2 linked regions of the Homo sapiens genome follow. The protein of the gene in region 1 interacts with the protein of each later gene in a pairwise test. Each region holds a gene or a part of one and is shown on either strand. Other genes may lie near its edges.

Region 1 (3,652 bases):
CTAGCAGTGGACTAGGAATGAGGGCCTACTTTCTAAGCTCATGCATTTGCTGCCAGATTTGGGTTTCTCAATGGAAACAAACTGGCCTTCATGGGGATGTTGTTAGAATCAAAAGAGATGCTCATGGGAAAATGCTAGGGCTGTGTAGAAAGTCCACAGGATCTACAAGGTTAAGATAAGGGCCGTGATTATCATTTTCCCCAGAACACATGTTTCCTCTGTGGGTAAGTGCCTGAAGCTAAGGGGAAGGGGTGAAGGAAGAAAGTGTGGCCCGGGGTCATGAGGGCAAGGTGATCCGCTTATGACAGCCAGGGCCTCCTTTGCCTGGGGCACTCTCACCTGTTTGTCACTAGCATCTGGATGATGAAGTTGGAGAGAAAAACCAGGAAGGTGCAGGCTTCATAGTATTTGAAGGCGGGGATTGCAGAGAGTCGGTACTGAAAGTGAGAGGGCCAGAGGTGGAGACAGGGTCCAGTGCTACCCATCACCTTGAAGGCATCACTCCCAGGCAAGGGGTGGGCTCCTCAGCCTCACCGCCCAGGCTCCAGTTCAGTTCCATGTAGACCCTACCAGTTCTCCAAGGAGTTACCCTCCTTCCTCCCCCTACCATCTAGTAGCTCAGTCTACAGAGTGACTTTCCTTTAGAGAGAGGCACAAGCTCCTCACCCCTAGGATCACAAACTGAGCAGACTTGGGGAGGAGACCCAAGGGCTGACCCCTCCCCAGCACCAAGGAACTAAAGTTGGGAAGTTGTTTGGTGCCACCCACACCACAGCCCACCTCTTTCTCCATCTCCTTCTCTCTGAAGTACAGTGTCAGTGGGTTGAAGTCCTTCGACTGCTTCCACTGTCTGGTGGGAGGTGGGAGGGTGGGTGAAAGCACCAGAGAACAGAGGGCACAGAAGGGCAGGAAGAGGGCAGAGTGAGGGCAAGAGGGGGTGGTCAGGCGAGTCTTCCCTCCAGCCCCTCAGGGAGCACCATCCCTTCTCCACCATATGACCTCAGGGCCTGCGGCCCCCCCAGCCCTCTTTGTTCTCCGTACTTCTGCGAGTTGAGCTGCTCAATGACCTGGAAGAACTTGGCATCCCCGGTGTCCAGTTCATCATCTAGTCCCCGGGGGGTACGGCTCCTGCACAGTGAGAGCCAAGTCCATCACCACAGAGACCCTCAGAGCGTCTGGGCAAAGCAGGAGCAGACCCCCAGGGAGGATGGAGGGGGTCATCCAGACAGCCCCACTGGCAAAGACTTTGAGGCCTCCTCACCGATCCAGGCTCCACTGGGTGCTGAAGGAAGCCAGGGTCTTCTCCTGTTGGGAGAGCACAGGGGGAGGTGGGCATGGTGGGTGTTTTCCCTGCAGTGAGGTAGACCATGAGCCACACTGCATGCTCTATACATGTCTTTGACCTTGGGCATTTCACTGGGCTCTTTCTTTTGCCTCTAATGACCTCTCTGTCTCCCAAATCCCACCTGCCCTTGAAGGGGAGGTTTGAATCTCCTTAAAGTTTCCCCCTGACTCTCTAGACTCCCAGGATCTTTGTGTGTGTGTGTGTGTGTGTGTGTGTGTGTGTGTGTGTGTGTGACTGAATCTTGCTCTGTCACCAGGCTGGAGTGCAATGGCATGATCTCGGCTCACCACAACTTCCACCTCCCAGGTTCAACCGATTTTCCTGCCTCAGCCTTCCAGGTGGCTGGGATTACAGGCATGTGCCACCACGCCCAGCTAATTTTTGCATTTTTAGTAGAGATGGGGTTTCACCATGTTGGTCAGGCTGGTCTCAAACTGCTGACCTTAGGTGATCCGCCTGCCTCGGCTTCTCAAAGTGCTGGGATTATAGGCATGAGCCACCGTACCTGGCTGGATTTTTTTTTTTTTTTTTGCAACGGAGTTTCGCTCTTGTTGCCCAGGCTGGAGTGCATTGGTGCAATCTCAGCTCACTGCAACCTCCGCCTTCCAGGTTCAAGCAATTCTCTTGCCTCAGCCTCCTGAGTAGCTGGGATTGCAGGCACGCACCACCACGCCTGGCTGATTTTTGTATTTTTAGTAGAGATGGGGTTTCGCCATGTTGGCCGGGCTGGTCTCAAACTACTGACCTCAAGCTATCCATCTGCCTCATCCTCCCAAAGTACTGGGATTACAGGTGTGAGCCACCGTGCCTGGCAAGATTTCTAATATTTGACTGAGCCCCTGGAACTTCAGGGGCTAAGTGGATTTCTGTGCTAGTGAAGGTCCTGCCTCAGGAGACACCCTTGAACAAAGGGTCCTGCTCTTCCACCCTAATACTCCCTAGCCTGCACACCAGTGGAAAGCGGCAGGAGGTCTAGCATGGGCCCCGGCAGGCATTCCTGCTATGTAATTGTACCTAACACCATCTCACAGTCCCTGGGCTTGTAGCAGTCCCCACACACCACTCCACCCATGCTGGAGGTCTCATCCTGCAACAGTCAGCTGAACCTCAGCTTCTTCCTTCCTCTTCCTCCTGCCAGCTTAACCCTCTGACCTCTCCCCTACCTCATGTTAACACTTGGAATTAAGTACTTCCTGCAACCACTGCTGCCAGTGTCCTTCCCCCACTCCCCAGTGTTGGGGGGTTGAAGAAGAGAGCATGCAGTTTCAGGAATTGAGTTAAACAGAGACATTTCCTGGTGCTATGGGTGCACAGCCCTAGAATCAGAGACAGGAGGAAGTGGGGGGTCCAACTGCCTTTGTGGTGTCAGGGGAAGGCACTCTCCTGAGTAGAGGCTGGGGAGTTATGGACATGGTGTGTGGGTGGCAAGCCACCCAGGCACCGAGGCAAGAGACAGAGGACACGAGCAGTTCCAGTATAATAAAATATAAAACAAGAATTGTTATACCAGATATAGATCTTAGATATGATTATATATGAGTATCATTAATCATTAGTGGGTAGCAATTACTTTTTATTCCAATATTATGATAATCCTCACTCAATAATCATAGCCTAGGAAAAACCAGGCCATACAGAGATAGGAGCTGAGGGGACATAGTGAGAAGTGACCAGAAGACAGGAGTGCGAGCCTTCTGTTATGCCTGGACAGGGCCACCAGAGGGCTCCTTGGTCTAGCGGTGACGCCAGCATCTGGGAAGACGCCCGTCACCAAGCGGATCATGGTCCAGCGGTAGCAAAAGGTGTCAAGAAACAACACCAGCTACTTAGCAGACCGGGAAAGCGGGGTGGGGGGGGGGGTCTCCCTTTCCCTGGGGGAGTTTAGAGAAGACTCTGCTCCTCCACCTCTTGTGGAGGCCCTGACATCAGTCAGGCTCACCCACAGTTATCCGGAGGCCTAACCGTCTCCCTGTGATGCTGTGCTTCAGTGGTCACGCTCCTAGTCCACCTTCATGTTCCATCCTGTACACCTGGCTCTGCCTTCCAGATAGCAGTAGTAAATTAGTGAAAATACTAATAGTCCCTGATATGCAGAAATAATGGTGTAAGCTGTCTTTCTCTTTGTCTCCTCTCCCTCTCTGCCTCGGCTGCCAGGCAGGGAAGGGCCCCCTGTCCAGTGGATATGTGACCCACATGACCTTACCTATCATTGGAGGTGACTCACATTCTTTACCTTGCCCCTTCTGCCTTGTATCCAATAAATAACAGCGCAGCCCGACATTCGGGGCCACTACCGGTCTCCGCGCA
Region 2 (3,652 bases), on another chromosome or scaffold:
TTTTTAAAATTAGCAGGGCATGTTGGTGTGCAGCTGTTGTCCTGTCTACTTGGGAGGCTGAGGTGGGAGAATCACTTGAGCCCAACTGTAAAATGGCCACGTATTACTTTTATGAAGTAGCATGATCATAGCTTACTAACTGCAGTTAGAAGCTGCAGTGAGCTATGACTGTGCAACTGCACTTCAGTCTGGGTGACAGAGTGAGGCCCTGTCTCACAAAAAAAAAAAAAAAAAAAAAAAGGAAAAAAAAAAAAGAAAAAAAAAAGAAAAAAGTCACACTCAGAAGAAAATCTGGCTTTTGGAATTGGTTAGTCAGATCATGTACTACTTGCAGGGCCAAAAATACAACAAATTGCTAAATAACTAAATTTATTTCTATGTTGTGTGTTCGGTTCACATTGCATTCTTAATCACAACCAACTACCTCACAAAGGTACTTTAAGGGAAGCCATCAGAGGAATCCACACAAGAGAGTGGGTGGAGGTCAGTAGGTATTCCTTAATTCCTGATATCACAAAAGCAATTCAAAGTAGTATCTTACTGATGGTGGGGCAGGAGCATGATTTGACCAGAAATACTTAGTGGTCCCTTCTCTACATCAAGTGAGCATTGTCTTAAGCAAAGTTATACATGCCATTACTTACAGGAACCAAAGATTAGACTGGCCTCTAATCTTCCTTTCTGGAAGGAAAAGAAAGAGACAAAGAAAAGAAAAGAAAAAGAAAAAGGAGAAGAGGGCATTTGACTGGAAAAAATATATTGTTGAGGGATGAAAGAGAAGATCCTGGGTTACTTATAACCTTCACACCGCAAACCTATGACACTCTTTCTTGGTACAGTGTTTTGCACGTGTAGTGATGATTCATGGCATCATGCCACTGGCACTTAAAGTGACAATGCAGACTAACACTAAGGAAATCCAAAATTCTTTTGGCCACCCCACCATCATCCCACCCTCTTTCATAGAAGATCAAAAGACAAATCTTACCTCCACTGAGAATAATGACAGCAATAAATATTGCCAAGTCGCTGTCATCTAATTCCAGTGCATTGAACTTCACAGCAAACTCAAACTTGGGCTCCATAAAGTCACCAAAAGGCTTTCGCAGGCTCTTTAGAAACTCCCTTGTCATGAAGCCTTGGCCCTCGGATATGAGAACCCCATCTTTATTCATCAAGGAGGCCAGCATTGTGTAAATGATCTCGTGGACTCCATATTTGAGGAGAGTTACTTGGTCGTTCAAGTCAAGATTTACAAAACCAGGAATGCTTTTGGCATACTCTGTGATCTCCTGCACAGCCTCCACGGAGCGAAACTGGCAGCCCTGAAAGATGCGGATGGCCACCTCTTTGCTCTGCTCCTGCAGGGGGGTGATGTGTTTGAACTTGATTTTATCTTCTCCCATCATTAAGGAATTCATGTCATAGATAACGAATGGCTGCAAATAAAACAGGGAAAACGTGGATGACTTGGAGATTTCTAACTCACAGTGAATGCCATCCCAGGTTCAGAAAACTGTTTATGTAAACTTGCTTTGCTAACTAAAATCTTTAAAGCTGAAGATGCTTAATAATGAGAAAATACTCTCAAGTTCTTTTATTCATCTTAATTATCTTCTGGGACCAAACATATTTCACCAATTTTGGTCTTCTTTCCCTTCAATTTACACTGTAACACTTTACCTATGACTGGCTAAGAATCCTGATTTCTTTTGTTTGGGGAGTCTTCATTGTTGATTTTTATATTATTTGTTTGTTTGTTTTTGAGACAGAGTCTCACTCTGCGCCCAGACTGAATTACAGTGGCACAATCAGGGCTCACTGCAACCTCCACCTCCCAGGTTCAAGCAATTCTTGTGCCTCAGCCTCCTGGGTAGCTGGGATTACTGGCATGCACTGCCACACCCAGCTGATTTTTGTATTTTTAGTAGAGATGGGGTTTCACCATGTTGGCCAGGCTGGTCTTGAACTCCTGGCCTCAAGTGATCTGCCTGCCTTGGCCTCCCAAAGGGCTGGGATTACAGGCATGAGCCACCACACCCGGCCGATTGTTGATTTTTAAAATGATACAAAATCTACTGTTTATCTTGGCTTTCAATGAAATACACTTTTAACCTTCTTTCAATAAAAAACCATTTCAGCAACTCAGCGTTGAAAATACCCACTTGAACATAAAGTAACTACAGGTTTAAAAAAATTTTTTTTTCTTAAAATTTCTTTTTCCTTTTCCTTTGTTCTCCTTCACAGGTAATAACTTTTCCGTTTTAGATGAAATCCTCTCAGATCTCAAATGAAACTATGTGCACATAAAATATGCTTAACTATGAAAAATCACTCGGAAAGCAGATTACAGCTCTTGAACCAAGAAAATGTCTATTTCTTTTTTTAATGCTCTGGAAGCCATCTATTTCACAAAGAGCAGATATAGAAGGCCTACAGGTGAATGCTGCAAAAAAGCAATTTTGAATTTATATTTTAAAATATCTGTCCTTATAGGTCAAACAATCAATAAAATACATGCCCCAATTATTCAAGTTTGCAATAGGCTGCCTTCAAAAGTTAAGTCATTTGGTCATGACATTCTCTCTCTTTTACTTCCCTTGTATAGAACTAAGCAAGGTTTGTAGTCATTGAGAAATTCTCAAGGCTGTTCTGACTAAGGGGTAACATTTTACTTACACTGGATACACTGAATGACACATAAGGAGTTAAACCTTGAATCCTGTTCAAATACTTGTATACCTGAAAGCACTGGAAGAAGAGCTGAGGGTATGTGTGTTCCAGCTTTGGTTCTGTGGTGAGCCATGTGACTTAAGAAAAGTCATTTACCTTTCCTAGGCCTTAAATTTCTCAATCAGGGGTTTCCATCTCTTCTCCGGAGGAAATTCTAGTTGCATTTCTCAGAAGCAGGATGTGTGTGGGGAGTGGGCATATGTGTGGAGAGGTGTGAGTGTGCATGCACGACAAACATGAAGTCTCTGATGGACTAAAAGTAAAGATTGTTTTGAGCAGAGATGCTGACAATTCTCTCCTGAAAGGAGAGAAGGTGCATGAGTGGCCGTGGCAGCCGGCTTCAAGATGCACTGGTTGGAGATTCTATTCATATCTATGGAACTCTATGATTTTCATCAAAAGATTAAGTTTGTTCTAAACTGGAGGAAATAACACCAACATTGAGGAGTCTCAGATATTAAATATATTTCCAAACTTGTACGTCACATCAACACCCTTTACTGGAGTTATTCTGGAAGTTTTTACTTTTGTTACCAAAAAATTCACTTCAACTGTACTACTTAGCAAACTCCAAAAGAGGACAGATGTGAGGACCCCCAAACAGGTTTACTTGGTGGCTCTAATTTTTAAGGAAATTGGGACCAAACTGTCCTTACCGTATTTCTTAAACATTTTGCTTGGGTGGTTTCTTTCCTTTTTCTTTTTTTCTTTTCAGGATTAATATTATTAATGGGAGGAATACAAGGGGGGCAGAGCAAGTAACATCGATGAAAATTTACTGTATTTTTCCAGAACGTCAGGTTCTAATTATGAGAAAAATGTGAATGGATAATGATGCTTTCACAGAACCTAGAGAAAACGTGTTTCTTGTCCTCCAGGCATTTTACAGTGTATTATAATTTATATTAATGAAATATTT

The links. Proteins that work in one complex are often made in the same cells at the same time.
Region 2: the proteins of ADCY4 (region 1) and PPARG interact in binary tests that used the Homo sapiens proteins (3 or more experiments, as listed by UniProt).

The regions. Positions count from the first base shown.
Region 1 is NC_000014.9:24,325,038-24,328,689, forward strand, and holds part of ADCY4 (adenylate cyclase type 4), read right to left. Parts: intron 1,306-3,652; coding exon 1,262-1,305; intron 1,129-1,261; coding exon 1,042-1,128; intron 851-1,041; coding exon 781-850; intron 438-780; coding exon 340-437; intron 1-339. UniProt on the Homo sapiens protein: Catalyzes the formation of the signaling molecule cAMP in response to G-protein signaling.
Region 2 is NC_000003.12:12,414,491-12,418,142, reverse strand, and holds part of PPARG (peroxisome proliferator-activated receptor gamma), read right to left. Parts: intron 1,440-3,652; coding exon 989-1,439; intron 1-988. UniProt on the Homo sapiens protein: Nuclear receptor that binds peroxisome proliferators such as hypolipidemic drugs and fatty acids.